Homo sapiens: one gene and its partners. The protein of the gene in region 4 purifies or fractionates together with the protein of the main gene of each other region. This does not show direct contact. Each region holds a gene or a part of one and is shown on either strand. Other genes may lie near its edges. The genes, in order: XPO7, TNPO1, CIP2A, VSIG2, COG5, CDS1 and TNPO2.

Region 1 (4,759 bases), on a different chromosome or scaffold from region 4:
CTTACCAGCTTTAGATATGTTAAAAAAAACATGAAAGGAAGGGCAACTAAACATAATTAAACACACATAAGTAAGTTTGATTTTTTTCTCCCACGCAAAGCTTTGTAACCACCCTGCCTTCAGGGTGAAAGTTAGATAAGGTTATCTAAGACCAAGAGTAAGAAACCCATCACATCGAGGAGCTGCTTAAGGGCACACTTCTACAGACACTTGCCTGTAACATCAACAGAGCTAAAGGGCAATCCAAATATTATAATTTTCCCATTACTAAAGTTTTATAGCACTTAAAATCGTCCATAAAATACATATCCTTAGAAGAGAGATATCCAAGACATCAGCCTGAGAGAACCCGAGAATCATATGACACTCAGCCTCAATTATGAAAAAACTGCTCACCCTGGTGGTTCAGAAAAGCACTAGATAACATAATGACTCGACTATTTAGTTCAACAAATGCAACTCTCCAATAATCAGTCATGAATCTGTAGCAGACACCTTTATAAACTTCACGTTTGATTAGTGTTATAAGAAAAATATCCCCGCCACCCTCCCCTCAATGCATTGCAGACTGTCTTTAATGAATCCTTTATTTACTCATTATACCTAGGGAAGCGTGTATCTTTTTCATAAGAAGGTTTTCTGCCACAATAAAGTACCACCTTAACATCTGTGAGTGCCCAATACTATTAACACTTAGTGGTCTGACAAAGAAAAGCAGTATGTCCCATTCTCTCTAAAGGGAAAAAAATTCACTCACAAACTTACCCCGTTGATATGAAGACCACTAAGCACTAATTTAGACCAACAGATTGCAGCTCTTAAAAGTAAATAAAGGGTACCAATAAAACACTGATCAACATGCTCCCCTTTGTTTTGAAAAGTTAATAAATTCTTACTTCCGTAGATTTTTGAGTGGTGAGTGGGAGAACAACATCTTACTAAAAATAAGACAGACCTTCGTTGGAGCGACAAATGCTGTGAAGATTGCTTTGATGCATCCTGACTTTCACAGGAATGACAACCTTTATGCTTCGAAAATGTGGGAGATCACATTAAGAGATATTTCTTTACGGGAAACAGCAAATAGCACGATGTATATTCATAAAAGTACTGACTCCCTCTGCATTCCGAAGCATGGTTCACAAAGGCTATCTATTCAAAGCCTGTTCTAGAATGCTCATAGACATCCCCCCAACCCCCAGTAAGGAAGCGCACTGGACCCAAACTCCAAAGACTTTGGGACACTTAGACTTACCTTAACCAAATCTCATTATCATTCTTGTGCTTTGGTTTTTGTTCCTTTAAATGACAGAAGTAATTCCTGCCTGAGTCTTGTAAGATCCAAGAATTTTTAAAAATCACATAAAATATTTCATGCTTCTTAGAAATGACTGCTATAAAACGCAAGGTGCTATACTATTATTATTATCATTATTATCATCTCCTTGTATCAACTTTTACTGTCACTTCTGAATTAAGCCAAGGTACTGGCTTTGAAACACAAATCCCGTGGTTTTCCACCTGTGATTACGTTTCTTGCTATAATTCTGTCCTGACAACTTGTCCCGCACACTCCGAAGATCTACTTTACTGATCTCTGGCCTGAAAATTAAGTCTTTTATTTAGTCCCTTCTCTCCAAAGAAAGGGGCAGAAGTCACACCACTCCAGATTCTTGTAGACGTATTAAGAATGAGATCATTCTTCTTACTTGAGGAATGATGCCACAGAATATAAAGGCGACACTTCTTGCCCTCTAATCTTTCCTTGCCACAACACAAAACCTGTGCACTTGGTTACCTAGAAAATTGGAAGGTTCCCCACAATGGATGTGCATCAATAACTGTCATAAAAATATCAGATCTCTGGCACAGACAGGAAAAACTTTATCTAGTTTGCAAGAAATTAAACCCTGCAGTCCTCCATCTGCTACTGGGTTTGGTATGGGCTGTCCCTTTCTAGGGCCTGTGCCTGTCTTTGAGGAGAGTGGCCTGGCCCCACAGCACGCTAGGAGCAGCTCTTGAGCCGGATCAAGACCCTCCCGAGCAACGTCTGCACCCAACCCTGCATCTCTCATTTCAGACACACCCCCCTCCACCCCGTGTTTCATAGGAGGTGTGGGCGCTCAACTCCTTCACTGTGGCTAGGGGGACGCGAGGGGAGGCGGGCCGAGGCCTGAGCACCCATTTTGGAAGACCGGGGAGCTCGGCCCTCCGGGCTGTACGATTTGGAGTGTCGGAGGGAAGGGCGCATCCGTGGGAGGGGGAAGGAGGCCGGGGTTGCTGGGGGGTCTCTCGTATTCCGGGGCGTGAGAGGAAGGCGGCGGGAAAGACTCCGGAGAGCGAGGTTTATCAGCGCGAGGTTTCCTTTTTGTTATCTGCTGAGGGATGGCGGGCGTCATGGGGGCGTCCCCCTCAGTAAAGTCAGCAAGGGGGTCCCCCTCGCTTCACCGGGGGGCGGGCGGGGGGGCCCGAGGACTTGACGGAGGCCTCCCCCGGGGACGAAGACAGTGACTGACGAACGTTGTGGGCTGCGCGCGCCGGGATGCCCGTTCCTGTCCCTGCAGCCCCGCGCGCGAGGTGTGGGACCGGGTGGGAGGGGACGGAGAAGGCCCCCGGCCCGGGAGGCGGGAAAGGCCCCGGGGCTCCGGGACGGGCGGCGGCTCCAGAGCCCCGAGTGGCGGCGGCGCGGGCCTGCCGAGTCCCGAGCCGGCTGGCGCCCTGTGGGCCGTGTGCACCCCCGACTCCACTCGCCGCTCTTCGTGGTCGCCCCCTCCCCCCCGCGGCTCCTCTCACCTGCACATGATCCGCCATTTTGCTCCATTCATGCTCCTCTCCGGCCCCCCCTCCCCCCCAGCGCGCACCTCGGCCGGAGCCGCTGCCGCCGCCGCCGCCGACGCCGTCGCCGCTGCGCCTGCGCGCTGGGGACTCGTCGCGCTGCGCTCGTGGCGTAGCGCCGCTCAGCTGCGCAGGCCCCGGCGGCCCGGGCCGTGGTTGGAGAATGCGCAGCACCGCTGGGACGGCGTAAAGGCGCGGGCAACGTCAGCGGCCCGGAGACGCCGGGTGGGAGGAAGGAGCGGGCCGGGGGAGCGCGAAGGAGGGGCAGCTGGGGGAACAAAGCTTTGTTTACATGGTTTTTAAAGGGGCCGCGCTCGCTCCGGCAGGCGGGCGCTGGAGTGGGAGTTGGCGCTGCCTTCTGCTCGTTTGCGTGGTGAGGGCTCCTGGATGGGGGCCGAGGTCTGTCGCCGCCCCGGGACCCCTGCACCCAGTGGCTTCCTCTCTTCCCAACCGTCTTCCCCCTTGACTCGCCCCTGGACGTCTCCCACCCCCACCCCCACCCCACCCTGCAGCTACGGGGACCCCCCACACCCCACCTAGGCTGCCTGCGAGATTCCTTACTTTCCAATGCCCTCTACTCAACGGGGGCCGATTCTGTGCTTGTGTCTGTCTAGCTTTCTGGACCAGGGCCATCGCTCTCTGGTCTGGATTTCACCAGCAACCCCAGTGGTTGATCTCGTGTTTTTCATTTCTGTCCTTTCGTCCTTGATAAACATTCATGGAAATAACCACCGAATGGTGGTGATGATCAAAACATACGAAGGCACAGTTCTGGCTTCCCAAAGACATTGTCCTCGTTGCCAATACTCTAGACTGCCTCCCGAGAGGGTCAGATGCTGGAAGAGGCAGCGGGGCTGGTGGTTAGGACCCCTAGGCTCGGTCTTGTGGAGGTATGAGTGGGAAAGCCATCTCTCTGGGTCAGATAAGGTCAGCCCCTGCATGCTGAGGCCAATTCCAGTCTTCCTCACTAGGAATTATCTGTTAGATAATGCCGGTTCCTGTTTTCCATTGGATTCCACTGTGGCTTCCTTTTAAGGCCCCCAGGTTAGATCATAGCTGGATTCTGAGAGCACTGATTGTTTGAAGTTTGTATTTACAGGGGACTACCATCATATGCAAATGATGGTGGTAGTGAATTACACACCCTTGGTGGATGTAGTGGACCGGTGCTCAGCATTCATTTCGACTTCCGTCCTCCTAGTAGGTCTTCCTGGTTTGCAGAGGTAGGGCACCTGGAAACTACATTACCCAAACTTCCTTGCAGCTAGGGTTCTGTATGCAAATTAGGCTCTGCCAATTAGGCTGACTCAGAGAAGATTTAAGAGGCAGAAGATTTAAGTGGCAGAGCTTTTGACTGTTAACTTCTAGCGAGCATAGACCTTTTCAGATGTTGGGTTTTTGTTTTTCCCCAAAACCTCCCAGCGTCCAATCATTAGCTCCGAGCGTATAAAGAGGCGGGGTGATGGGGTCAGTGGCTTTCTGAACCTGGCATCGGGCAATGAAATATTCTCAGAGTCACAATTGCAATGGAAATTCTTTGGATTCCCTACTGGACTGAATAGAGGTAACAGTTTCACAGTGGGCCAGGCCCAAATTTCTGTCCACCCTCCCTTCCCCCACCCCCGCACCCCAACCTCCCCGTGTTTCTCCCTGTGTCTTCCCTTCCTCAGTAAATGGTACCACCATTCATCCAGTTGCTCCTAATAAACACTCAGGAGTTGGTTCTTCAAGTCTTATCAGTCCCCAACATGCAAGTCACCTGCAAGTCCTGTTCAATCTATATCTAATATATACCCAATATGACCACTTCTCCATCCATCTCCACTGTTAACACCTTGGTCCAAGCCACCATTACCTTTCTCCTGTGCTCTGGTAATAGATTCCTAATTAGTTTCCCTGCTTCCTGTCTTGCCCCTTGATAACC
Region 2 (4,782 bases), on a different chromosome or scaffold from region 4:
ATTGCCTGAACAGTGTATCCCATGATGATGAAGGAAAATGGAGAGATTTTTCTTTTTAACTCTGCTGGTCAGAGATGAAGCCACGCCTTTCCATTTTTCAATGCTGCATATTTAATCTGCAACAAAAATGTTAAGCCATAACAGCCTTTTTATATTTTAGTTTGTCACCTTTGCATTGCAGAATAAATACTGAATAACCATTTTTATAAGCAGTTGCTCCTCTTTGCATGGTTCTATTCTCTAAAAGTGTTGAATGATACAGCCATTGCACTGAAGTTTGAGCTGTGTGCGTGTGAATTTATACTGTTTCAAAAATTTCAAATGCATGGTAGCATGTAGAAAGGTTTTTGTTACTATGTGTGTGTGTGTGTTTTGTTTTGTTTTGTTCTGTTTTTTAACGTTCTTTCACCTTTCCTCTACTTTGGCTTTGCAAATTTCAGTCTGTAGAGCCTGAAATTAAATTATTTTATAGTGCCTGATATTTTTAATATTATAAGTTGGATTCAAAGGGTATACAGCATTTTGTTTTCTAGTACCATTGCTTCACTGGGAGCTCAAAATTTGCCTCCCTGTTAGTCTTTAATAACTGAGTAGAGTAGCTTTTTTATTCTTAGATTATAGTGATATTCTGTAGTGCTTCAAATACTTAGAATTCTAATATGAGAGATAGTTTAATATTCTGGAATAGAGAGTATTTTAAATTGAAATGACCAAATTCGATTTAAAACAAACACATAACAATCTTCAGTAAAGTTATTTGAACCTGTGGTTGACAATTCTGTATTGACTAAAGGCAATATTGTCACCTGTCTCATTAAAAATTAGTTTCCAGTTAGGCAGATGAATAACACTATTAAAAATGCACCCAGTTTTGTAGTCACTTGACTTTTTTTTTTTATTTAAATGAAATTTAATTTGAAAATAGAAAATAAAATTAGGTAAATATGACTGGCAACCTGAATTTGAGTTGGGATTCTTTGTGTATTTTTCCCCCTTGAGGTTATTGTTTCTTCCTAATTTATATTTCAGATACATAGTGTAGAACAGGAATTTGCAGAAGCCATTTAAGTTATCTTTTGAGGTAAGCTCTGATTTAGCATTTATTCTGATAAAATCTAATACATCATGGGATATATATAAAGCAACTTAATTCTTGTGGTGTAGTCTTAATAGTTTTGAATGTTGACTGAATGTCTATAAAATTGTGAGTTTGTCTTTGTTACATTCCAGTGTTTCTGCCTCTTGGCATGCTTAAAGCACGGCTTACTTCATCTGCTCCTTACACACTAAAATGCTGTTAGTGTGCTCAACTACAGAAATAGCCGCTGCTAAGTGATGTAGATTTTCTACTTGAATATTTTTATGTTGTAGGAACCTCAGGAGGTCAGTGTTTACTGTTTTATATATGCCTTCTTTTTCCTGTTTGAGCTTCTCTCTTTGAAGGATTCTAACAGAACAAAGCTGCTGATCAACCTAAGTTGGAAACAGAAAGTGTAATTAATATAACTTAAATGCATGTTTGGCAGTTCCATGTTACAGTCCATTAGCGAGTGAACTTAGTGCCACAGGTATTCATTTATTCAGGAAAGAATTTTGCTTTTTGTATTGTCTAATCTCTTCAATGACTTCATACTGTGTAAAAAAAAATCACTTTTTAATATTTTTTGGTTGGTTATTTCCCAAATAATCAACATGTAAATAATCTTTTAAGAGCCAGTTCTGATGCTTTACATTATTGCTACTTGATTTTGTTATGCAAGTTAGATTTCAGAAGAATAGATTTTAAAACACTTAACCAAGCCATTACATCTTAAAAACAAAACAAGTAGCATACATTTTGTAATTAACATTGATAAACACTGTGATTTTTTTGGTTAAGACTTTTTCATTGATCTGAATTGCTTAAATTGCATATATTGTAAAATAGGATCAGATGTATATTTTAAACTAATTTCAATGGATTTTCCTCTTGAAATGCTTTGTCTACTCAGTTATAAAATATTCAGATACAAGTTTTATCTCAGGTGAATACTCTTGTATTGTTTTTGCTTTGGTGACATGCTTATAAAGGGTCATCCTAGTTACATTCTTTGTTTTTTAAGTGTATTTCATTGAGAATCTTTCCATTTAGTCTGATTTTTTTCCTAATATTCTAGCAGGCTGGGGTGGTATAAAGCCCTCCTGACAAGCCTTTTGCCTACAGGTTTACCTGAAAATGAGCTACATATGGTCGTCATTTTCTTCAAACTCTCAAAATAGGAAAGTGGAAATTTTTCTCCCCTATATAAAATTATTCTGCCTAGCAGAAATGCCAGAAATAAATTAATTGCATCTTAGTCTAAATTTAAGTCCTTTGCCATGAGGAAAAAGTGGTTTTTTGCTTCATATGGTAAATCTATATTATTCATATTGAATGTATTAACAGATAATGGTGCAAAAGCATTCTTCCCAGGGGAAGAGTGTATCATGCATAACTGCAATTTAAGTCCTTCCTTTGATAATACTTCAAAACATACACAGCTTTGCTTACTGAATTATTTTTGCAAATAATACAAGGAGGGGAAACTAACTTGCTACTAGTGTTGTTAATGAAGTATAGGCCTTGGAACATTTAAGAAAACTGGTCTTCAGATAGTTAAGGGCTTGGGATAATTTAAGTGAAAAGTGAGATCAGTAATGAGCTGTGTTGTTAACAATATTATCTGGTAATAATACCATGCAATATAGCGTTGTATACCAACTTAGTGCATTTTATACTGTATTAAATATGGAGATACTTCTAATGCCTCTCTAAAATTAAATTTTACATAAAAGTTAGTTTTATTCACCTTTAGGCTTTCCAAGTGAATTGTGACTAATTTTTTCAATCTTACATAGATCTTTCACCCATTAGCATTACTTACGTAGATAATTCTTTATGCCTAGTTATTATACATATTAATTTTTAAGGTATACATTTAAATTACACAATTGTTCATTGTGGTTTGTATCCCAGAATGTGTTGTGTTTTTTAAAAGATGCATAATAGCTGAATGTATGCATGACTTTGAAAGAAGTTAAAATGGTGATTTTTTTTCACCTCTTGTACATTTTAAAACCAGGCCAAATCTATTTGCCAAGCAGTGTATCACTAATAAGAAAAGCAGTTTTTCCTTTTATTGCAGTTTTTGTTTATCTGCCATAGAATTTCCTTATACTGTGGCTTGGTATTATTCAAGATTAGCTATTTCGCTGGTATTACATCTTTTTAAAAGCCTATTATAACATGGTTAGCCTATAAGGCAGTGTTGGTCCCCTTCTAATATTGGCCTCATAAAGGGGTTCCACTGTACTTTCCGCATATTACTGTGTTGTTGTTTTCCTTTGTGGATATATAAGCAAATTGAGCTTGGGTGATTTTTATGGAGACAATAATTAGACAATACTGTATAATTAGTTTTACTTAATAGATTATCATCTTGTGAGAAGAGATGTTTAAACGTGGTAAATCACTTCATATTACAAAACAGTTTTACACTTAATATGTTAACATTGGGTGCAATAATTTAGTAGCATTAGCTTTAGTTACAAATATAACTGGATCTTTCTGCTGACAACTTAGGTTGTATGAGTTATGCTTAAAAGCTTTAAATCTGATGTTTCCTGTACCTGCCACACTATGTTAGAATGTGTCCTTCAAACATATCCTCCTGCAACTTCTCAAACTGTACTAAATTGATATTTCTTGAAGTCTAACTCTGTGCTAACAGATCTCCATTTTAAATAGAATACGGTTTTAATTTTTGATAAGCTGCTGAATTTTAAAGAGAGTTTTTTGGGGCCACCAAATATTTTGGATCATGCAGAGAATATATATTGTACTGTAGTAATTTTGTATTTACATTTGTATGATGTGACATAATAGATGTGAATGTTAATCACTGCTTGACTATGTTAATAAAGTTGTTTAACTATAGATGTTGCACTCTGATTTTTAATGAAAGGAAATGAGTTTTCTTTTTCCCTCTTACCCCATTTTGGATCTAGATAAGCCTTATGTTTTTTGGGATTTTTTTCCTTGTTTTTAGTTTGAGGTTTTGTTTTGTTTTTTCCTTAGCTTACACATTAGTACACTTTTGTTGTTGAACATCATTTATTTCTTAAAACAAGTGTTTTCTTATTTGTATAGTATAGTAAAAACCTGTTTTTCCACATTTTAACTTAACTCCTTGATGTGTTTTAAACAGTTGATTATAGGTTCTGCTGTTTGAGGATAGGGGACATACTATTCTGTAAAAGGAATTAAAGGCGAAATTGTGAATATAAAAAGTTGATGTAAGGAGAGATTGCATGAGTGTGTATGAATGTATGTCCTATTAAGGCTTCCTCTTTATCCTTCAAACAGTTAAGATTTGTAATTTGGGGAATTAACATTTATAAGAGTAATTTTTTCTTCAGGTTGTAAGGCATTAATATAGTTGCATGTTACTAATTAAATGTATTAACACATTTCAGGGAGTATGTGTGCATAACTGTCATGGTTTTTTTTGTTTTTTGTCTTGTTTTTGAGATGGAGTCTTGCTCTGTTGCCCAGGCTGGAGTGCAGTGGCACAGTCTTGTCTCACTGCAACCTCTGCCTCCCGGGTTCAAACGACTCTCCTGCCTCAGCTTCCCAAGTAGTTGGGATTAAGGCATGTGCCGTCACACCCGGCTAACTTTTATATTTTCAGTAAAGATGGGGGTTCACCATGTTGGCCAGGCTAGTCTCGAACTCCTGGCCTCAGGTGATCCACCTGTCTCGGC
Region 3 (4,054 bases), on a different chromosome or scaffold from region 4:
ACTTGAGGAAAACATCTCAATTACTAACAGTCATACTAGACTCGCTAGGTTTTTTTCTGCCAGTCATATATATTAGTGTTTTCCTTTTTTTTCACTGAGTAGTGTGTATGTATATATATATATAGTGCTCATTTCAGTGTAATAAGTAAAGATATTAAAAAGATTTATATAATTTGTTGCCTGACTACTGGGGATAGTTACATTGTCTCTCCATTGCAATAGATGCCATCTACCAAGTTTAGTAGGCCATTGAATGGACAATAGAGGCATATTGGATTCAGTCAGTGAAATGGAGTAGAGCATGCCAGATAATGTGCTAGGCACTTAAGATACAGACAAAACTCCACATTCTGGTAGATCTTACTATCTGGGCAATTTAATATTCTCTACTATTCTCCCTGTTTATAAATCCATTCTGTCTAACCCAATATCTCCTGAAAGTATTTCCCTTCACATAACTGGGTCTTACACACAAACAAATATGTGTATGAAGTGATTAAATATGTTCATTAAGAATTATTCACAAAATTTTCTATTTTATCTTGGTCTTGATTATTTAACAATCAGTTTTAACATTTAAAAAGCCCTTTGAGGGTCTTGAGGGAAATTATTTGTGGTCATAAACTATTAAGACCAATGTCTATTATTTAATTATTGTTATTACTTTTAGCAGATTCAGGATATTTGTTTTCAGTAGATACTTTTAGTTTAGAATAATTTTTAAATCACAAAGTCTGTTTAAAAAAGTCTTATTTGTAAAACCTTACTGTCTAATTTGAGAAAAAAGCCATAGCCCTCAAAACTGGTTAGAAGTATAAATTTTAAATAAAAATTTAAATATTCACAGGAGACTTAGGTCAATGGCATATTGAAGGAAATATAAAAAATTTAAAGAGAGTGTTACAATTCAGTGATGACTTTTTCTGTATTGTATATTCCATCTTTGCTTTTAATCATTTGTGATGGATAATTCTCCAGGATGTCATAGATGCTGCTAACTGTTCCTCGGCTGATCGTTTTGTGACCCTTCTGCTGCCTACAATCCTTGATCAACTTCAGTTCACAGAACAAAATCTAGATGAGGCTTTAACAAGAAAAAAATGTGAAAGGATTGCCAAGGCCATTGAAGTTTTGTTAAATATCCTTTACTGTCATTAACGTGAAAACTGTATAACTAACCATTCTTTTTTTTCTAGTATTGCATTCACTGCATTTTGTCTTTATTTGTAATTTGTCACTTTATGCTCATATTTATCTAGAATTACTGAACTAAAATTTGAACTGTAGAAAAAATTCTCAATGAGTGAAAAAGATCCATGATTTTTTTTCCTTATTTTTCTGTGTGAAACTTTTAAGTTAAAGTACATTTTTTAAAATGCTGTTTAAGCTTGATTTTGACACTTGTATCACAATTTGACATTTGGTGGTAAATTCTAAAATGACTATTCTGTTACTCCATGTTACTGTTTTCTGCTTGATGCTAATTATTTCCCCTGGACGGACGATCAGTAGTGCCATTTTTTGGTGATGTGTATTCGTGGATAAAGAAATGCTGATAGAGTTGTCATGATTTTAGCTCAGTTGTTTTACCTTATGTTTTAAAAATAAAGCCTTCATAATTGCTTTAATAATGGTTATAAGAAAAGACAAGTATATCAACACAAATTCATTCATTTAAAAAGAAACCTTTTAGTTTCACTGCTTAACTTCTATATACTGATTTTCTAGGTCTTCCTTGTGTTTACTTTTTCATAGACCAACTAATTCTGAGTTGCTGGAAGTCCCAATTTTAAAATATTTCATTAATACTTTTTTACTATGAGCAAAGAGCCACTGTATCTCAACCAGATCTCTTAAATGTATCTAGTCAGGTTTCCTTGTATCTCAGAGCAACAAGAATATGTTCTACTCTGTCCTAGAGCAAACTCCACCCCTGTTTAATATCCTCTTCTAAGGTACTGCTCCTTAATTTTCTTCCTTTAAAGCAGTGACTTTCAACCCTGATTTCCTACCTAAAATCACCTGGAGAACATGTAAAAAAAAAAAGAAAATCGATGCCAGAACCTTACTTCAAGAGTTTCTAATTTAATTGGAGTGATGTGAAACCCTGAAATCATTAGGTGGTGTGTGTTTGCATGTTGGCTTTTTTGTTTGTGATTGTTTAAACTACCTGGTTGATTCTAACATGCAGCTAAAGTTGAGAACCACTGCAGTAGGGATACATGATTGCTTGACCTTGGAGATATTTATAATTAATAAAGTGGGGCCTTCTCATTGAATTGGACCACAACTTTTAAAATAATAGCTATTTACATTAATTTATAATATACAAATATGACAAAACAACTTACCCTTATTCAATAAATATTTATTGAACCATTGAGATTCTTGCTAACAAAAAACAGACATCCAATGGAAAGATATCCTCGCTGTTTTAACCATTGAGTCAGAAACCTTTGGTGCCAGTCCATCTCTTACCACTTGCTAGTCATTTAAATTGTGTGAGTTTCAGTTTCCTTGTTTGTCATTGAGCTAATTTAACAATAATTATACTGGATGACAGTGATGATATAATTTGTATGAAATCATCCTGAATGTTATCTTTTACACATAAAGTGAGAATTTTTTTGTTGTATATCTTAACAAAACTTAACCTCTCTGTGGAGATGATACACTAAAAATGCATATTGCAAAAATCTTGACAACTGTCAAGTGTACCACTCTTATAGAACAACAATTTACATATGGCAAGATTGACCTGGGATTTGGAACAAAGGTTGCAGATTCTGAATTATGGTGAGTATATAAACTCTAATGACAAAATGGCAAGGCAGTAAAAAATCGAAAGATGTGGTGATTCTCATCCTTTTGGAGGACCATCCTTTGGTTATAACTTAAGATATAACAGATTAACAAACATATTTTCATAATGAATTTTTTGTAAATTCATTCAATTTGTAGATTGTGTGCTTTTTGAAGAAAGGTATTAACATTTGTTGTTTTTTATTGTTTAGGTTTGTTTTGTCTTGTTTTAACTTACTATAATTATCTAAGGGTTCTGAACATTTCTGGAGCTCCTTTTTGACATTGCCTCAGTAATCAATTTTACTTTTTTAAATGAAAAGCATGAAAAAACAGAAGAGTAGTTTTATTACAAGGAAATCAGTCACTGCTAAAGGCTTTTTAATAACAGACAACTCTCCTTCCTTGGCAGGTCAGGAATTATGGTTAAAGGTGGATTTTCACTGATGGTAATAAGATATTACTTTATACCCCTTCCCTCCTCATGAATTAAGTCCATCTAATCTTTACTGAGGACCTGCTGAGTGGTAGACACTATGATTTGTTTCTGTTTCCACAGATGTCACAATTGTCAGTAATTGTGGACCTTTAGAGTAAGAATTATCTGTTTTTATATTTGTATACTACTTTCAGGTACAAAACTCAGAACATGACCTAGTGTAATTCATTCATTACGTATTAGATATTCTATATTGCCTAAGGTTACCGTCTGTTGTTGATATTCTAGTGACAAAGCTAAGAATTAAATGAACTGTGTTTCGAAACTACTACTTACTTGAAACAGAAAGTTGAAGCAGGTTGGTAGTAAAAGAAACACTGTCTAAACTAAGGCTATTAATGCCAGTTTGTTCTCTTTGGATCTTGAGTTATAAGAATGTTGATTGAGATTTTTACTTCTCAATAGAAACAGGACTTTATCATCTTGAATTTAAAAAACACAAGTGTTGGTTTTTTTCATTTTCTTTAGAATTTTGGACAGAAACAAGCTCTAAGAAATTTTTCAGTTATCTAATTTAAATGTGATTTATCTTTAAAGCAAACTTGCTGCTGATGTAATTTTGAAAACTCTTGATTTGATTAACAAACTTAAACCATTGGTTCCTGGTATGGAAGTAAGCTTCTACAAAATACTTCAGGTGAGTTTAAACTCTTCAAACATTGAAGTTTATTCATACATAAATGGTCCTAATATAAGTTTCTGTTTTAATATTCTTAATCTTTAGAAGATAATTCTCTTAGAATTGGCAATGAG
Region 4 (4,847 bases):
CTAGGAAGTTTGGAAGTGGTCCACGACCCTTAGGAAACCTAAAAGAAATCTCCCCAAGGCAGATGGGTGGTCATCATCAGATTGCTCCCTGCCCTCTACTCTCTTCCAGGATATCAGCAGTATATTCAGCTTGAGAAATACCCCCAGGATCATGCAGCCACAGACTGCAGAAAGACAGGCAGGAGGGAACAATACAGGAAGCCAAGGAAGAGACAGGGAAAGGTATAGTGGTTTGTGTCATACCCCTAGTCATGGAACGGATAATACGGGTGTGTGGGATTTAGAGACCAGATTTGCCCAGGTCTCCAGTACCCTCTTCCTGATGCCCTGGGCCCTTACCTTGAACCATGCTGCCAGGAGAAGGTGTAGGAAAAGTTCCAAGACGCACCCAGTTGTACACTGGCTTAGGAGCCCCCTCGGAAGAGCTGCATCTCAGTGCAGTAGAGCCTCCCACAGAGGTTTGTCCACTCTGACTGCATAAGGGATTACTGGGGGGAACTGCAAAAAAAAAAAAAAAAAAAAAAAAACAGAAAGTTCCTCAGCAATCTTCCAGCCCCACTCCCAACTCCATTAGGTGCTACATTCTCTACTTCAATACCCCTATCAAACAGTGGTCCTCTTGGGTCCACACACCACTGCATCCCCAGGAACTGAGGGATTTCCACTATTGGAAATTCTGATTGTTAGAGAAAATTCTTCTTCATGTTGAGCCAAAATGTGTGTTAACATAACCTCCACCCATTGGTTTCAGTTCCTGCCCTTTGGGCCCACAAAGAGAAATTAAAATCTCTCCTCCACATGACAGCCCTTTGGATAGTTGAATCCAGCAGTAATACACCCATCCGAGGCCTTCTCTTTTCCATCTAAACACTGCCAGTCTCTGTGATAGTTTTTCTGGTTGCTCATCTCTGAAAAGGCTCTAGTTTGGGGTGAGACAGAAGCTCTGAGCACGAAGTTGGTGCTCAGTAATAGGGGCCCTTGTTCCTTTGGTGGCCACTCCCCTTCTCTGCCATTGACCTTGGGAGGGACAGAATCCAACTACCGATGAGAGCCTCCCCCATGATGGAGCTGCTGGGAGCAGGCTCAGATCCCCATGTATGGGAAGGACTTTCTCTCACACACTCTGTTATTAGGCTCTGATGGAGGAGATGCTCTCGGTGGAGGGTGGAGTTGGAGTATGACCATCTGAATTAGAAGACTTGGAAAGGGAGTATTTTCACTTGGGGCCCCCAGTGCAGTTGTGTGCTTGGGCTAAAAGTCAGAAACCAGAGATTTAGCAAGACCAGTGCAAACGCCCCAAGTATGTGAAAGAGTATGTGGCTCGTGGATCCCCAGTCTGCCTTACCCAGCACAGTAAGGTTGATTAGCCCCAACCCATTGGTGTAGAAATCTGGTGGGTTGTTGACTTGGCAGAGGTAGGTTCCAGTATCTGAGGGGTGGACGTCAGTCAGTTTCAGTGTGGCCACCCCCACTGTGGGGGGGTTCTGAAGCAGGCTGACCCGCTTTGACTTAGAACCAGTTGGATACAGATGGCCATTGGTGAAGTACAGGATCTGGGGAGAGGCAGAAGACACACATATGTGCCTGTTTCTGCCTGGCATCAACTCTACAGTCCTTCCTCATCAAAGTGGGTATAAGAGGCCTCTGACTTACATCAGCCAGGGAGGCTGATACCCTTAAGCTGGAACTCCAAAGGTCTCTCTGTCCCCAAACACCACCCCCTTTCAGGTGCTAAATGAACCTGATCCATTGGTCTCTCTCTCTCTCTCTCAAAGAGAGAGGCAGAAGAGGCAGCATATTATCTTGGTATCAGTCACAACACCTTAGTGTCAATGGATACACTAAGGCAGGGGAGTTGGAAATAGGAGCTATGGAAGAGGAAAGGAAGATACACGGTCAGGCAGACTGCAGCTCTGAAAAGATCTAGGGAGAGCCCACTTACCTTTTCATCCAAGCATACTGATCCCCAAACTCCCCCTCCCGACCCCATGCCCTCATCCTGGGCTCCTGTCCCTCCAGGCCAACCCAGCTTCATGCAGTCGCTCTCAGCTCACTGGATGGGACTCAGAGATGGGTTTCCCAGGCTGCACAAAGCTCCACTCCAGGGCGAAGCTGTCTCCCACCGACGTGCTGTAGGTGCAGGTCAGCTCGGCTGTCTTCCCCAGGGGCGTGCTCAGCGGCTCTGTGGGTACCTTCACCTCCACGGCCAGCCCTGGGGCCGGGGACCAGAGGGAGGTGGGAACCCAAATTCCAGTGATCTGGAGGGTCGGGCCCACCCCCGGGCATCTATATTGGAAGCTGGGGGCTCCCTCCCCAGAGCACAACCCTCTCCCCTCAATCCAACCCCTCCCTTCCCAAAACCTGAGGTTTCCGGGAGGGGCCGGGTCTTTGTGGGTAAAAGAGCCGGAACCGGGCCAGGTAAGAGGGTGTGTGTGTTTAGCAGAGAAAGGAAAACACTAGCCCTGCGGTGGGGTGGTTCAGGCCTGTGCCGCGGAGAGGCCCAACTCGCTCGCCGGCTTGGGGGTCTCTCTCCTACGCCCTCCGGGCCTTGGACACCCCCTCTCCGGCCTCACCTCAGGCGCCTTAGGGCCCCTGGCGCCCACGGCAGCCTCATCTGGCCTGGCGGGGACAGAGTGGGTCCGAGGAGCCGGGGAAGCCAGGCCTATGCCCCCCAGCCCTCGCCGTGGTCCCGCCCGGCCCCTCCTCACCACTCAGGCACAGGAAGCCTAGCAGGGCCCCGCAGAGAAAGGGCCCCGGGAGCTCGGCCATGGCCGCGTCCGGCCGTCCTGTCCTGCTCCTGCCAGGTGGGCGGTCAAGGTCGGTCTGGGTGTCGGGCAGGGAAGGGAGCACCCAAGGGCAGCCGCCCGGGCTGGGCAGGAGCGAGACTGGTATCTCAGAGCAAACAGGGGAGAGGCCGGCGCCGCAGGTTAAAAAAAAAAAAAAGTGCTCCTCCCTCCTCTCCTCCAGCCCCGATTCTGCAATCCCTCTGTCCCTTCTTCCTCCTTCCTTCCTCTTCTCCCCAAGGTCTGAAGCTGTCCGGCCTTGGGAAAAGCGCTGGGCTTGGGGTGGGCCTTCTGCAGAGACGGAAGGAAAGCTGACTTTGGAAGGCGTCCTGATACCCCAGAGCTGGCAAGGGGAGTCCCCACCTCGGAGCCTCACTGTGAGTGTGAGCCCCAGGCCGCAGACCCTTCCTGTCCACAGCGCTTTTCATTTCACCACTTACTGAGGTAGGAGTCTCTGTAGAAATGAGCATCTCTCCATTTCCAGAGCCACTCCATTTTAGGGGCAGAGAAACTGAGACCTAAAGGAGACCTCACCCTTGGTAGGAAAGAACATGGCAGAACTTGGACACAGACCTGCACCTCATACTATGCCCAGCTCTCCCTCAGTAACAACAGAGATCTCTTCCAGATGGGCAAGGAGTGTTTTGTTAAGGATTCCGTGGTGTGGGAGAGGAGCCCACGTGAGCTTCCTCTCCCCTGTCCCTGAAGAGGAAGCAGATGAGGTACACGTACCCCCTAGCCGGGAGCACTCAAGCTCCAGCAGAAAGCGTATCAACTCCATCCCTCTGCTGTTCAGAGTAGCTTAGAGTCTCCTCCCCTTCTCCACGTGACAAACAAGGACCCTTCTAAACACTAGAAGAGCTGCTCTAAGCCTGTGGGGGGAAGCCCTCCTGGGTACACAGCTTGGGAAGGGGTCCACTTTGCATCCTCCTGAAGCTCAATTTCAAGAATTCTTAGTTTGAAAAGGCAACTTGTTTCTTATCTCATACAAACATTATGTATCTTTATTTAAATTTGCAAATGAAAACAACACATATTTCATGTTAGTTTTAATAAGAGATTCCCTATCCTCTGCCCCAGTAAAACCTAACCAAGCCAGCCTGACAGGTTATATCAATACAGGGAGCTGGAGTGGGAGCCAAGGGTGGTGTTAGATAGGGGTGGGGTACAGATCAAGGGGGCCTGGGAGACTCAGTGACTGGAAGTCTCTGCCCCTCACTCTTGGTGAGTAGCTAATTTCAGCAGCTGGCTTCATAAGGAGGAGTCAGGGGTGGGTGGAGGCTCCTCCCAATTCCAGATCCACTTCCTCTTCTCCTTCTGTCTCCTGGACACTTAGGTCTTACTGAGATGGTTTTCCCACAGTAAAGAGAGGTGGGGGCAGAGTACTAAGGGTCAGGAGTGTGACTCTTTCCCATGACTCAGGCCTCTGTGCTAGAGGTGACCCTTATAGGAAGGAGAGACCCCAAATCCTTTAGCCAATGAGTGGTGGGGTCATCATACCAGAGAGCCAGCTTGACTCTGGGCAGGCACCATCACAGGCACAGCACCCATGCGGCTCAAGCCAGAGGAAGAAACCCCACCAGGGATGGGGGATATTGGTTGAGGGTGGGCCCCATCTGTCGTGGGCAGTCTTGGTGAGGGCAGGGCCTGGCTGGAGAGACTGGGCGTGGGGGTCAATGCACCAGGCCTGGGAGGGCCATGGGGTGGCCGGAGGGCTCGTGCGGAGGTGACAGAGGAAAGGGTCCCATTCTTGGAGATTGTGTCTGAGCTCTTGGGCCAGGGCAGGGTCCGGGGAGCAATGGCATCCTCCCTAGTCATCAAAGAAATAACAAGAGGTCAGAAGTGGGTGGGGGAAGGAGGAGAGAGTTTCTACCTGCTTGGTCTTATATACCACCTCTGCCTGCACACTTCAGTACTCCTTTCCCTCTCCCTTAAAACCTGCCCATAGGAATGATGTTTCAGCCACTGACCCCATCCCAATAGATGAGAGCTGCCTGAATTCCCAGCCTCTGTGAGGAGAGCTGGGAGAGCCCCCGCTGCAGCAGACACCAGGGACACTTACTT
Region 5 (4,054 bases), on a different chromosome or scaffold from region 4:
ATTCACTATATCGGGGATTTGGCCAATGACAGAGTATCGGATTGATAGGCTTGGTGAGCACAGATGCATAGTATGAAAATTGGTGAGGTGTTTCTGATATGCCCTCTATGGGAATGAGGAAACTATAAAAGAGAAGCATTATATAATTCATCTCTTTAAAGGCTGTCAGCCCTCAAATGCCACATCCCGTTGTGTTTGATCTTTGTAAGCTCTATGACAATACTAATACTTACTTTCTTTATCCCTTCTTTTGGCTTTTGCCATTCTTTTTTGTTTCTCTTTCTCCCTGAGCACTCTTTAGTCTCTTTGATTGCTTTCATTTTCTCTGTCCACCCCCCACTTTCCTATCTTCCTCATTTTCCTGCCTTTTTGTGCATTCTAAAACTTTTTTTTCCTAAATCATCTGGTCTTGTCTGTGGTTTCAGTATGCTCCTTACCTGTCTTCTGAATTATAAAACTATATTTTTAACTGCCTACTGGACATTTCTATCTTAATTTTTTTATGATATGCCATTCCATAACCTGTATGGACATTTCTATTTTGATAGTAAACAAGCAGTGCTAGTTCTATAATACACATGAAAACCTACATATGAACAAATAGTACAAGGTTTACATATGAAAAAATGAAATGAATTCACTTTTTCTGTTCTTCTCTCCTAATCTTTTCCTCTGGTAGTTTCTGTTATCTGTGTTTACTATGTTGTTAGGTAAATGTGTGCTTGTTCCCCTTGTAAATTATGAATTCCTTGGAGGCAGAAGTTTATGTTCATCTTGGTATATTCAGTGTCTAGTGGTCTAAGTTAGTGTAAAACTAAATTTCCTGTATCAGTTGCTTAATCCAGAAATTTGGGAATCCTTGTTTGTTCTACCTAATCACCCATTTTCAGCTTGTCACTAAGTCCTACATCCTGTGCAGTGTGAATATTTGTCAAATTTGTCACTTTGACATTCTTAGTGCCACTTATTCAGGTCTTAGTCGGGCCTTCATTATGTCTTAGGCTGTTAACATAGTACTTTACTGGCCTCTGTGGTTCTATTTCTTGGGTGTATTGGTTAATTGGCTTTGTGGGAAAATAGAAAAAGCCCTGATTTTTGTAGTGTTTGCTGATTACCATGGTGTAAATACTCTCACCATCGTAGATTTTAAGATATCTGTGTGAAAGGTCAACTGGCTCACAGAATTCCTGAAAATGTAACAGTCTGTGCTCAAGAGCCAATAAGAGGCAACTTCAGCACATTGCTGTGTGACTAATCCTTTTTCCATCATCCTCTATACAGCTGCCAGGATTATTGTTCTGTAACATAAAGCTGATAGTGCAATTTCTTGGGTTAAATGAGATATGGTTAAACATTTCAAATGTCTTACAAACCTCTTTTCAAACTGCGCTCCAACCTTTGGAACCACATCTGTCATTCTTTACCATTTCTGTCCAATATACATGTGCTATGATTTAGACACACTGAAATCAGTATTCCCCTTGTTTCTCAAAATATGCCATGGCATTTGCCACTGCTAAACCTTCCCTTTGCTTGGAATGGCTTTTTTCATTTGTCTGGCTGACAGGACTCTTAATTCTGAGAAGCACTTGGCAAATCAGAAGGAAATGTGGTTCTCAGACTTAAAAGCAGCCAAAGTAGCAGTTTCCTTCTTTCATTCCACTACATTTTAAGAATAATCAAGAGTATGAGCCTTTACTTTTTGTTGTTGGTTGTTACCAGAATGATACTAATGATACATCAGCTGATGTATAGATTAGTTAATTCATGGAACCTGCCATGTGTCTGGTATTGTTCAGACACTGGAGAAGAGTTAGCAAACAAAACAAAGACCTTCTTCCCCTCTTGGAGCATACATTATAGCAGATGTAGACAATTTAGGTTTTCTTAAAAGTACTCTATTTTGTTTGTTTCATAATCTCTCTCAAGGCAGCTTTACTTGTATCTACTGTATCATTAGGAGATTTGGTACATGGTTACCATGAGCTCCCTTCTGGGTATCTATTTTTAGCTTTCAATTCTCTTAATTTTTCTTTCATCCACATATTTGTGGATTTCTATATTGAGGGGTATCTTTTTAACATCTGGTATTACTTCTGTTTTCTGTCTATTAGGGGCCTATTTTAAACAGCTTTTCTTTCCATTAACATATTTCACCCATAAATCCTAAATTTCAGTAACACCTATAAATTTATATTTCCTATTGTTACTAAAATTCCAGATTCACTTTGCTATAACAGTATTTGTGTATTGATCTAGAGATATCTGAGGCCATAAATATTACATATGTGTATATATATATATAGAGTCAATTTTCCTGTTGTCTTTTCACTGACAATGATCTTGTTTTCTTGGATTAATAGTTATAGCTAGTAGTTATGGTTTTTTTTTTTTTTTTTTTTTGAGATGAAGTCTTTTTTTTTTTTTTTTGGGACAGAGTCTTGCTCTGTCGCCCAGGCTGGAGTGCAATGGCGCAATCTCAGCTCACTGCAAGCTCCGCCTCCCGGGTTCACGCCATTCTCCTGCCTCAGCCTCTCGAGTAGCTGGGACTACAGGCGCCCACCACCACGCCCGGCTAATTTTTTTTATATTTTTAGTAGAGACGGGGTTTCACTGTGCTAGCCAGGATGGTCTTGATCTCCTGACCTCGTGATCCACCTGCCTCGGCCTCCCAAAGTGCTGGGATTACAGGTGTGAGCCACCGCGCCCGGCCAGAGATAAAGTCTTGCTCTGTCACCCAGGCTGGATTGCAATGGCACGATCTCGGCTCACTGCAGCCTGTGCCTCCCGGGTTCAAGCTATTCTTCCACTTCAGCCTCCCGAGTAGCTGGGATTACAGGCACCCGCCATGATGCCCAGCTAATTTTTGTATTTTTGTAGAGATGGGGTTTGAGGTTTCACCATGTTGGCCAGGCTGGTCTTGAACACCTGACCTCAGGTGATCCACCCACCTCGGCCTCCCAAAGTGCTGGGATTACAGGCATGAGCCAGTGTGCCTGGCCAGTCGTTATGTTTTTTAATCTCTTTCTCAATGTTATACTTCCTTTAGGGTCATGATAAAAGTAAGCATTAAGCAGTATAGTGGAGTGGTTCAGAGTATGGGATCAAAATATGTTAATTATGATTATAATTGTTCTGTTGTTTAATAACTGGTTTAGTACAGGGTAATTAAGGACTTTTCCTTATTTTTTCCCCAATCCAGGGTGTTATAGTGACTTTTTAAACGAAGACTTTGATGTAAAGACTTATACTTCTCAATCTATTCATCAAGCTGTAATTGCTGAACAACTAGCAAAACTTGCCCAAGGAATCAGTCAGTTGGACAGAGAACTACACTTACAGGTAATTCTGATCTTCTGGGTCCCTATGGATTATTCAGCCTAAAGTGATAATTTAGCATTTTTGTAATCTTATTAAATACAAATGCATATTTACATGAAGAAGTACATACTTACCAGTGTGACTTATTTTTCAAAGTAAATTTTTGAAATTTTCTGTAAACCACTTTTTGTTTGTGGAAAAACTAATATACCACCTCACCAAAGCCTTTCATTCATACTTCCTGTTCACCACCTTAACTGATGTGCAACGAATATAGTGGGCAAAAAATAGGATGTGTTCGATAAAGATAATAGAAAATGGAATTTTGGAAGTAAAACAATATGAATAAGAAAAATTGGGATGTTACATTCGCAATTCATACTTTATTAGCACAAAGTGTAGCATTTGCTGAAATTACAGAAAGTTGATAAATGTTATTGTGAGTAGGATACAATATGAGATGTTAGGCGACGGGTCCTAATTTCAGCTATGCTGTTGTTAACTGACTTTAATATCACTTAAAGTCTTTGAGTCTTGCTTTTTTGTTTTTTAATCTATCAGATGGGTTGGAATAAGCAAGAGGAAGAGGAGACTGTAGTAGATAACTTTGAAGATTCCCTCCTCTACTAAAATTCTGTAAATTTTATAGGGCGATTTTATGGCATAATTTCTAGTGTTGCCTTTGATTGAGTAGGTATTTAATACATATTTAAATGAATGAACATATGCATGA
Region 6 (4,054 bases), on a different chromosome or scaffold from region 4:
CTTGGAAATGGACATAGATTGTGAAAAAAGAGAGGATATGTCAATACTTGAGCAAATACAGTATCTGGGGCTCTGGAGTATTTTGCCATATCAGAAGGAAGTCTGTGTGTATATAGCATATTAGGAATATGTGAAAATTATATGTGCTAAAATGTCCATGTTTTGTTGTACTGATTCTATTTTTGGCCAATAGCAGGTCAATACTGACTGTGTGTACTTGGAATGAATACGTCTCATTCTTATTCCAAGAACTTACACCAACTATTATCAGGTTTTATATTAGCATAAGAGTCATGGGACAGTTATTTTAGTATAGAGTTTATACTCTTTTGAGAGACAGAACAAATTTAGACCATTTAACATGAACAAACACATATTCACAGCATTTCAAATATTTGAGGGCCTACTATGTGTTTAAATATTATTAGAGAGATTTTCACTAGTAAATCAAGATCAGAGAAAAGGAAAAAGGGTTTTGAACTATTCCAATAAGAGAAAAAGTAAGGAGAGATGTACAAGTTATTGAGGAAATAGTTTATATATATATATATATATATATTGTGAGTTTTGTGAGTGCAGTAAAGCTTTTTAATTTTATTTGCCCTTTTTTAGTTGTCTCCTAAAAAGACTTGGGAAGGATTCATTGGTGGTTTCTTTTCCACAGTTGTGTTTGGATTCATTGTGAGTATTACTAAGATTTTTATTTTGTATACATTTCGAAATATGATACCAAGCTTACTGGTCTAATTTTAAACCTAGAAAAATTAAACCACAAAATGCTAATAATATATTTATTGAAACCTACTGAAAAGAACCAGTTCTGTACCTCAGCAGCCCTTATCCTGGCTACATATAGAATCACCTGAGAAGCTTAAACAAAATCTATGTCTCAGCCTTATCCCAGGCCAGTTAACACCCCCAGGTAATTCTAATGGCCATCCATGCTGTCTTGCTGACTTGCTGACTTACTGTTGTGCTGTTGTGTTTGGTAGTTTCTAACAGCTATTCTGCCTTAGGCGGGGCACAAGTACTGGGACAGGTGGTGGCCTTGTGTAATAGCAGAGGATGCAAATACTATTGAAAAGCTCTGCCTTCTTAAACACATGGTGGCCACTTGGCTCAGTGGGTGGTTACTGTTGTGGGCCCAACTTGCAGAAACAGTCTAACTATAAACTATTAATGTTTGCTTTTAGCATGTTAAATAGCTATTTTTCATGTTTTACAAATTAGTTTACAGTTATAGGATTTAGATTTTTATTAAAAGGTGTCTAGTGAGAATGAGAGTATAGTACCATAGCTGGATATAAGATAAATGTACAAAAAAGTACTGTCAGGAAGCTTTACTTTTCCTAGTTTCTGACAGTTGTGGTTACATTCTGTATCCAAATCTAGAGTACCTAGTAACAACATGAAGCCTGGAGAGAGTGAATATACAAATAAATGGAAATATGCCATGATCCTGGAAACCACCAGAATTCCTCTATTTAATTTATAAATTTAGTTCATTTGCAATGAAAATTTTAATAAAATGTGATAAAATTATTCCAGTGTTTTTGTGGTAGAATATTGATGAGATAATAATGGACAGATAGAAGAATGCAAAAGGATCCAATCTCATCCAATGTTTTTACATTACAAAGCGAGAATAATTAAACATTATGAAGCTAAATAGTGTAAGAATTTGTTATTATCAAAGACTAACTTGAAAATACCACAGGAATAGCCATATCATTGGAAGAAAAGTAGGAGCTACCCCATAAGCATGTAATGCATGACAAAATAATGAGGAAGGAAATTCCACATCTATATGAAATTATATATATATAATATATATAATAATATGTAATATATATAATATATATTTTATATATATAAAATAAACTGGTTGTTTGGAAGCAAAATCAGTTTATATTCATTCCTAGTGTCTTGAATTTCTATTACTCATTCTCGAGCAGAATAATAGGGTGAATGGCTGCAAGAAAAGGAGAATAAGCTGTTGTCTAGCAATTTAAATTTATAACAGGATATCTTATTTTATGTATCTTATTTCCAAGGCTGTGGACAGCTAGTTTTAAAAATTGCAATGGTGTGGCCAGGGAAAGAATAATTTAGTCAAAGTTTTCTGGGTTGGCTAAGAACAATGGTGTTTTTAACCTGTACTATTTTGTACTATTTTATTGTAATTTTGAATTACTGGTTAATTATTAACTGATGAAATTAATAGAAGCTTGTGTGCAGTATACTTCAGTTCTTTATTCTCCTGTACCGTATAATTGTGATTATGCAGAGATTACAATCTTATTGATTTCAAAAAAACTTTTTTTTTCTAAAGGTCTTTTAAGTCTTTTACTAGGATAATTATGACCATTTAACTTTGAAAATACATAGCAAAATATTAAGACAAAGAAATTCTGGCATTCTATCTCTGGCCTTTCTGATGTATAACTTAAAAGATATATGTTTAGTCAATGTGTTATGAACTTTTGCTTTGTTTTTTGTTTTGTTTTGTTTTGTTTTTAATATCAGGCTGCCTATGTGTTATCCAAATACCAGTACTTTGTCTGCCCAGTGGAATACCGAAGTGATGTAAACTCCTTCGTGACAGAATGTGAGCCCTCAGAACTTTTCCAGCTTCAGACTTACTCACTTCCACCCTTTCTAAAGGCAGTCTTGAGACAGGTACAGTAAAAGTTCAAGATAAACATGGTTAGAGATCTTCCACTCTGAAGATTAAGCTTCCTTTATTATTTATTTATTTATTTAATTAATTTATTGTTGTTTTGAGACAGAGTTTCCCTCTGTTGCCCAGGCTGGAGTGTAGTGGCGTAATCTCAACTTACTGCAACCTTTGCTCAAGTGATTCTTAGGCCTCAGCCTCCTGAGTAGCTGGGATTACAGGCGCTCGCCACCACATCTCGCTAAATTTTGTATTTTAAGTAGAGACGGGTGTTGCTATGTTGGCCAATCTGGTCTCAAACTCCTGGTCTCAAGTGATCCGCCTGCTTCGGCTTCCCAAGGTGCTGGGATTACAAGCATGAGCCATTGTGCCTGGCCTGAAGATTAATTAAGCTTTCTTTAAAAGTGGGATTCAGATTTGTACAAGAAACTGATTTCTGTAGAATTTTTAATTCTTTGATATACCAGTGGTTTTAGTGTTAGCTTAAATCAAATGGATGAGAACGGGTTACAAATCAAATGGATCAAATGGTTTAGAATGTGTTTCTCATATCACTGACATCAGTTGACACAATTTAAAACTTAAAATTCACCAGTTTACCGAGTCCTTGATTTTTAGAGGACATTTATTATGGACAGAAAGTTGCTGCTTCTACAAATCAGTTTTCCTTCCAAATACAGTGCCTTCCTTGAAAGGTATCTTGGAGGCCTTACACTAGAGGATGTTGACATGCCCTCCAGTGGAACCCTCCTGATCTGTGTCATCAGGTCTGGTGAGTGGCTGGTTAAAGTGAGGAATCAAATAATAGCATGTATGTCTGTATCTTTGTGTGCACACATGTACAGCTTTGTATCTGAATCATTTTACATAAAATCCATAATTTTTGAGGAGTAGCTTAACAAATTATTTCTCTCTGAGTGCTCAGTACATGGTTTCCAAGAACTTTTTCAATGTCCAAGCCATCTGTTACCTGCTATAAAACTTTTTATACTGCTAGTGTTTGATTAGGAGCAAGGCTATTTATTGCTTTGAGAACAGGTCAAAAAATGGATGTCTCAGCCGGGCACATTGGCTTATGCCTGTAATCCCAACACTTTGGGAGGCCAAGGCAGGTGGATCACCTGATGCCAGGAGTTCCAGACCAGCCTGACCAAAAGGTGAAACCCATGTCTACTAAACATAAAAAATTAGCCAGTCGTGGTGGCATACACCTGTAATTCCAGCTACTTTGGGAAGCTGAGGCAGGAGAATCACTTGAACCTGGGAGGCGGAGGTTGCGGTGAGCCGAGATTGCACCATTGCACTCTAGCCTGGGCAACAAGAGTGAAACTCTGCCTCAAAAAAAAAAAAAAAAAATTGGTGCCTCAGACATCTTTC
Region 7 (4,054 bases), on a different chromosome or scaffold from region 4:
CACCCAGCTAATTTATGGAATGTGTACTGAGTGCCCCTTGGAATAGATGCAGGGCCTGACCCTGACTATGGAAAGACACAGGGCTTGGATGGAGGGTCTGGCGCCCAGGAGGGATGGATGGAGCAGGCCCCAGGATGCGAGACTCCAGTCAGACTCCAAAACACAAGGGGCTCCCCAAAGAAGTAGAAAGCAGGGAAGGAAAAAAAGGGAAAAAATGCTAAGGGGGTCTGCAAGGCCCAGTTTTCTGGCCAACTGGGAAGTAACTACACCCCCACCCTCTCTAGGGGAGCCCCTTCCACCTTGACCATGTTCCCAGACTATTCCGGAAGGTTCTCTAGAATTGCTGACCCAGTCTAGTAGGATCTCTGGGCTCACTGGGTACTATGATGAGCAGGAAGTCCCAGGGAGATGGAATAGGGAACAGGGGACACACCACCTTTCCCTTCCACCAAGCCTTGGTTTTCCTTTTTGCTGGCAAAAACCTGTGTCCTCTGTCATCATCAATTAAACGCCCCTGCCCCAGGCCTTGAGTTAAAACTGGGGCCTGAAACGTGAGAAGGGGGTTTCAGAAGCACAGAGAAACGGACTGCCCCTGAAGCTGCTTACAGAGAGAGATGCTCGGGGTAGGTGCCAGTAGCTCTGGCTACACCCAGCTCTCTTCAGGAAAAAGGTCCCAACCCAGTGTCTTCAAAAGCCACTGGAGCACACAGGAAGGAGAAACGGTGACCTCTGGCCAGCCCCAGCCACTCCAGTGGTTCTCACCCTGCGAGCTAGGCTAGGATAAGGACGGAGACACCACCAGCTGAGGCTGCAACAAAGCTGGCAGGGAGTGTGTGGAGTGGGTCCCAAGCATGTGCGTGCTGACAGGGCGACTCCCAAGGTCACCATCCTCCTCCCCCCGCCCCGAGATCCCGCCTGAGGCCCCCCACCCACCCAGCCCTCCCCAGTCACCGCCAATTCCGGCAAAACAGCAGAAGCTTCTTAAACTCTAGATGCAGGTTACACGGAAGGCCTTACGGGTTAACTCAGGGGTTCACTAATTCTACTGTCTCCATGCAGTCGGGGAAATGGTGGAGCGGCTGGCCCAGCCTCGCCGGTTATGGCACCCGCACATGCGTGTGGCCATGTGTGTCCGTGTGAGTGTACGCGTCCCTACGAGGGCCCCCCTCCTGACCTGCTCCTCCCTCACCTCATCCGAAGCCGGATTCGGTCAGCTGTGTAATTCCTCCCTCCCACGTAGCTGGCCCAAGTGGGCTGCCAGAGATGACCCTATTAGAGCCCAGGGGCCCTTGCCCACCAGAAGTCCCCCCCACCTCCCCGTTTGTAGGATGAGCATGGTGGCCCCACCCACCTGCCAGGAGGGCAAGTGGACGGATGGACGGACGGACGGACGGACGGGGAAGGCATCTGGATTTGAGTCCCACTCACTCCTCCCTAACCCCCCTCAACCAGGGCACAGCGACTTCCGGATGCAGCGCACTCCCCAGTAATCCCTCCGACGACGACGCAGACAGAAACCTGCAGGGGGAGGAGGAAGGTCATGGCCTGGGACCTTTCGGCCCCCAAGACAGTGCTGACTTGCCAGCTGCAGTCTCCTTACCTGGCAGTCTCCATGATCACCTAGACCCCATAGAAAGCCGCCAGCCTCTCCTTGAGCAGCGGCGGGAATTGCTCAGAGAACTGCTGCCAGTTATCTTCCCCAACTTGGTCTTTGAAGCCGTGGAGAATCTGTGGGGAGGGTGGTGGTGAGGGGTAGGCAGGGGCAGAACAAGGGGAGTGCGCCTCTTCCCCCATCCCCAGGCCCCATTGTTACCAGATGGTCTCACCCCTGCCTGCTCCCGGAACTAGATCAGGGCCCAGACAGAGCCTCACCTTATAAAACATGTCCCGAAGGTCATCCTTCGGGCTCACCCAGGAGGCTACAGCATCGCAGAAGAAAATAAAGTCCTGAAACGTGACGGATCCCAGGTGAGGGGCCGCCCGAGCCCAGCGCCCGCGCCTGCCCTCAGAGCCCAGCTGCCCCAACCTGCACAACGCCCCCCGGGTTGACACCGATCATCATGCAGATGCCGCGGAAGGCTGAGTCCTTCTCCTCGTTGTCCCTGATGTTCCTGAGGGACGTGCACCTGTGGGAAGGTGAGCAGCTGGAGGTCAGAGGGCAGGCTGGGCATGCATCTGTGGAGGGCTGGGTCACTGGGGATCAGTGAGTGGGCCTGGGACATGCATCTGTGGGGGTGGGGCAGGGCAGGGAGTCAGTAGGCAGATGGGGCTGGAAATGCACAGGCGAGGGAGGGGGTTGGGCCAGTCCCGCCCACCACACAGCAGGCTTGACACGTGGACACACACCAAGGCCGGATGAACTGCTGCAGCATGGGTGCCACCTCCTGGGGGCACACGTAGCCCAAGCGGCCGATGGTGATGGCTGGAATGGCAGAGGGACTCGTCAGGCGACCTGCAACCCCGAGCGGCCCCGGGACGGTACGTGGCGGGGCCTCTGGCACAAGGCACCAAGCCCCGCCCCATGAGCCCCAAGGGAATGGCTACTGCAGCCACCCTGGTCCCCCAAGCTTGGCCCAGCCAGGGGTCCTCCTCATCACACCTGAGTCACTTCCCAGGTCTCTCTGCATCTATCTTTCTTTCTTTCCTTTCCCTTTCCTTTTTGTTTTTTTTTGTTTTGTTTTGTTTTTGAGATGGAGTCTTGCTCTGTTGCCCAGGCTGGAGTGCAGTGGCATGATCTTGGCTCATTGCAACCTGCCTCAGCCTCCCGAGTAGCTGGGATTGCAGGCACGTGCCATTACCCCCGGCTAATTTTTGTATTTTTTAGTAGAGATGGGGTTTCACCATGTTGGCCAGGCTGGTCTCGAACTCCTGACTTCAGGTGATCTGCCTCCCAAAGTGCTGAGATTACAGGCATGAGCCACTGCACCCAGCCTGAGGCTGCATCTTTCTTGGGGCTTCTCCCAGTGACCCCTTCCAGGTACTTCCAGACACCCTCCTTGGTTCCTTGACAAGGCTCTTTCTGATGCCCTTCCCAGCCCAGAACCCCACCTCCAGAAGGCAGGCAGGGGTGCAGGCAGCAGCCGGGCCAGGTGCCCACCTGTGTTTTCCAGCAGTGTCTTGGGTGTGTTGGGTCGGTTAATGATTTCCACCAGGTTGTTGAGGACCATCTGCACATAAGGCTGCATCTCTGCCCCTGGGGGAGCACCCAGTCAGAGCCCTGCACAGCCCCCGCCACCCACAGGGGCCAGGGGGCCGCCCCACCTCACTCACTACTCGCCCCAGTTCCAACTAGAGACTGGCCAACCACTACCAGTGAGGAAACAAAAGACCTTCTCCGGCTAATCCCCACCCAGAATCCCTGGCCAACCAGGGACAGACCCACACCCTCCAAACAACAGAGGCTTCTCTGGAGTCGCTAAGGTGACAACACGCTGCCCAAGTCAAAGGAAAAAAAAAGCCAAAGTCACCCAACCAATCCGAATGAGTCTTTTAGCCAACTACACAAAACGGTCCAATCAGAACAGCCCTCCTATCCCTCCTCTTTAGAGAAGCCAATCACAAATGACCTTTCTGCTTGGCTCCACCCCTGACGACCCCCAAGAGACTTGCCTTGAAGGAAGCTGTCAGTCAGAGCTAGGCTCCCGCCCCCAGGTTGAGAACAGGCTAATGGGGGGCGCGTGTTGCCACTTGCAGGGCACTCACCCATCTGCATGCAGATTTCACCAATGGCCCAGGTGGCGTTGTTGCAGACGGAGATGAACTCTGGGTTCAGGTTGGTGCCCAGAATGGGCATGAACTCGGCTGGTGGGGAGAAACAGGGGTGCTGAGAAGGAGGGCCAGCCAGGGTAAGCTGCAGGACCTAGTCCAGCAGGCCCCATCAGACAGTACGAATACATCCCAATGTGGTCACAGTCATCCCCGGGTATTGCTCTCCATCACTTGAGGCCGGGGCTGGGGTCATGGGTTAGGGACAAGGCGAGTGTCGTACCGATACAGGGCTTGACATGGATGAAGCAGGCTTTGGTGAGGTCTCCCAGGAGGGCAAAGGAGCTCT

What was found.
Region 1: the proteins of VSIG2 (region 4) and XPO7 purify together in Homo sapiens (affinity purification with mass spectrometry; 3 studies listed by BioGRID and IntAct, with this or other methods). This does not show direct contact.
Region 2: the proteins of VSIG2 (region 4) and TNPO1 purify together in Homo sapiens (affinity purification with mass spectrometry; 3 studies listed by BioGRID and IntAct, with this or other methods). This does not show direct contact.
Region 3: the proteins of VSIG2 (region 4) and CIP2A purify together in Homo sapiens (affinity purification with mass spectrometry; 3 studies listed by BioGRID and IntAct, with this or other methods). This does not show direct contact.
Region 5: the proteins of VSIG2 (region 4) and COG5 purify together in Homo sapiens (affinity purification with mass spectrometry; 3 studies listed by BioGRID and IntAct, with this or other methods). This does not show direct contact.
Region 6: the proteins of VSIG2 (region 4) and CDS1 purify together in Homo sapiens (affinity purification with mass spectrometry; 3 studies listed by BioGRID and IntAct, with this or other methods). This does not show direct contact.
Region 7: the proteins of VSIG2 (region 4) and TNPO2 purify together in Homo sapiens (affinity purification with mass spectrometry; 3 studies listed by BioGRID and IntAct, with this or other methods). This does not show direct contact.

Annotation. Positions count from the first base shown.
Region 1 is NC_000008.11:21,917,823-21,922,581, reverse strand, and holds the start of XPO7 (exportin-7), read right to left. Parts: upstream 2,921-4,759; 5' UTR 2,812-2,920; coding exon 2,794-2,811; intron 1-2,793.
Region 2 is NC_000005.10:72,910,434-72,915,215, forward strand, and holds the end of TNPO1 (transportin-1), read left to right. Parts: 3' UTR 1-3,955; downstream 3,956-4,782. UniProt on the Homo sapiens protein: Functions in nuclear protein import as nuclear transport receptor. Serves as receptor for nuclear localization signals (NLS) in cargo substrates.
Region 3 is NC_000003.12:108,565,239-108,569,292, reverse strand, and holds part of CIP2A (protein CIP2A), read left to right. Parts: intron 1-978; coding exon 979-1,138; intron 1,139-2,654; coding exon 2,655-2,796; intron 2,797-3,838; coding exon 3,839-3,938; intron 3,939-4,054.
Region 4 is NC_000011.10:124,749,369-124,754,215, forward strand, and holds the start of VSIG2 (V-set and immunoglobulin domain-containing protein 2 isoform 1 precursor), read right to left. Parts: upstream 2,888-4,847; 5' UTR 2,770-2,887; coding exon 2,709-2,769; intron 2,213-2,708; coding exon 2,055-2,212; intron 1,554-2,054; coding exon 1,346-1,553; intron 499-1,345; coding exon 340-498; intron 1-339. Other genes in the region: ESAM (endothelial cell-selective adhesion molecule precursor), read right to left, coding at 4,278-4,593, 4,846-4,847.
Region 5 is NC_000007.14:107,557,264-107,561,317, reverse strand, and holds part of COG5 (conserved oligomeric Golgi complex subunit 5), read left to right. Parts: intron 1-3,202; coding exon 3,203-3,342; intron 3,343-4,054.
Region 6 is NC_000004.12:84,638,312-84,642,365, forward strand, and holds part of CDS1 (phosphatidate cytidylyltransferase 1), read left to right. Parts: intron 1-612; coding exon 613-681; intron 682-2,526; coding exon 2,527-2,679; intron 2,680-4,054. UniProt on the Homo sapiens protein: Catalyzes the conversion of phosphatidic acid (PA) to CDP-diacylglycerol (CDP-DAG), an essential intermediate in the synthesis of phosphatidylglycerol, cardiolipin and phosphatidylinositol.
Region 7 is NC_000019.10:12,699,726-12,703,779, forward strand, and holds part of TNPO2 (transportin-2), read right to left. Parts: coding exon 3,989-4,054; intron 3,947-3,988; exon of another isoform or gene 3,872-3,946; intron 3,802-3,871; coding exon 3,703-3,801; intron 3,194-3,702; coding exon 3,098-3,193; intron 2,453-3,097; coding exon 2,347-2,452; intron 2,127-2,346; coding exon 2,027-2,126; intron 1,948-2,026; coding exon 1,873-1,947; intron 1,729-1,872; coding exon 1,621-1,728; 3' UTR 1,601-1,620; intron 1,519-1,600; 3' UTR 1-1,518. UniProt on the Homo sapiens protein: Probably functions in nuclear protein import as nuclear transport receptor. Serves as receptor for nuclear localization signals (NLS) in cargo substrates.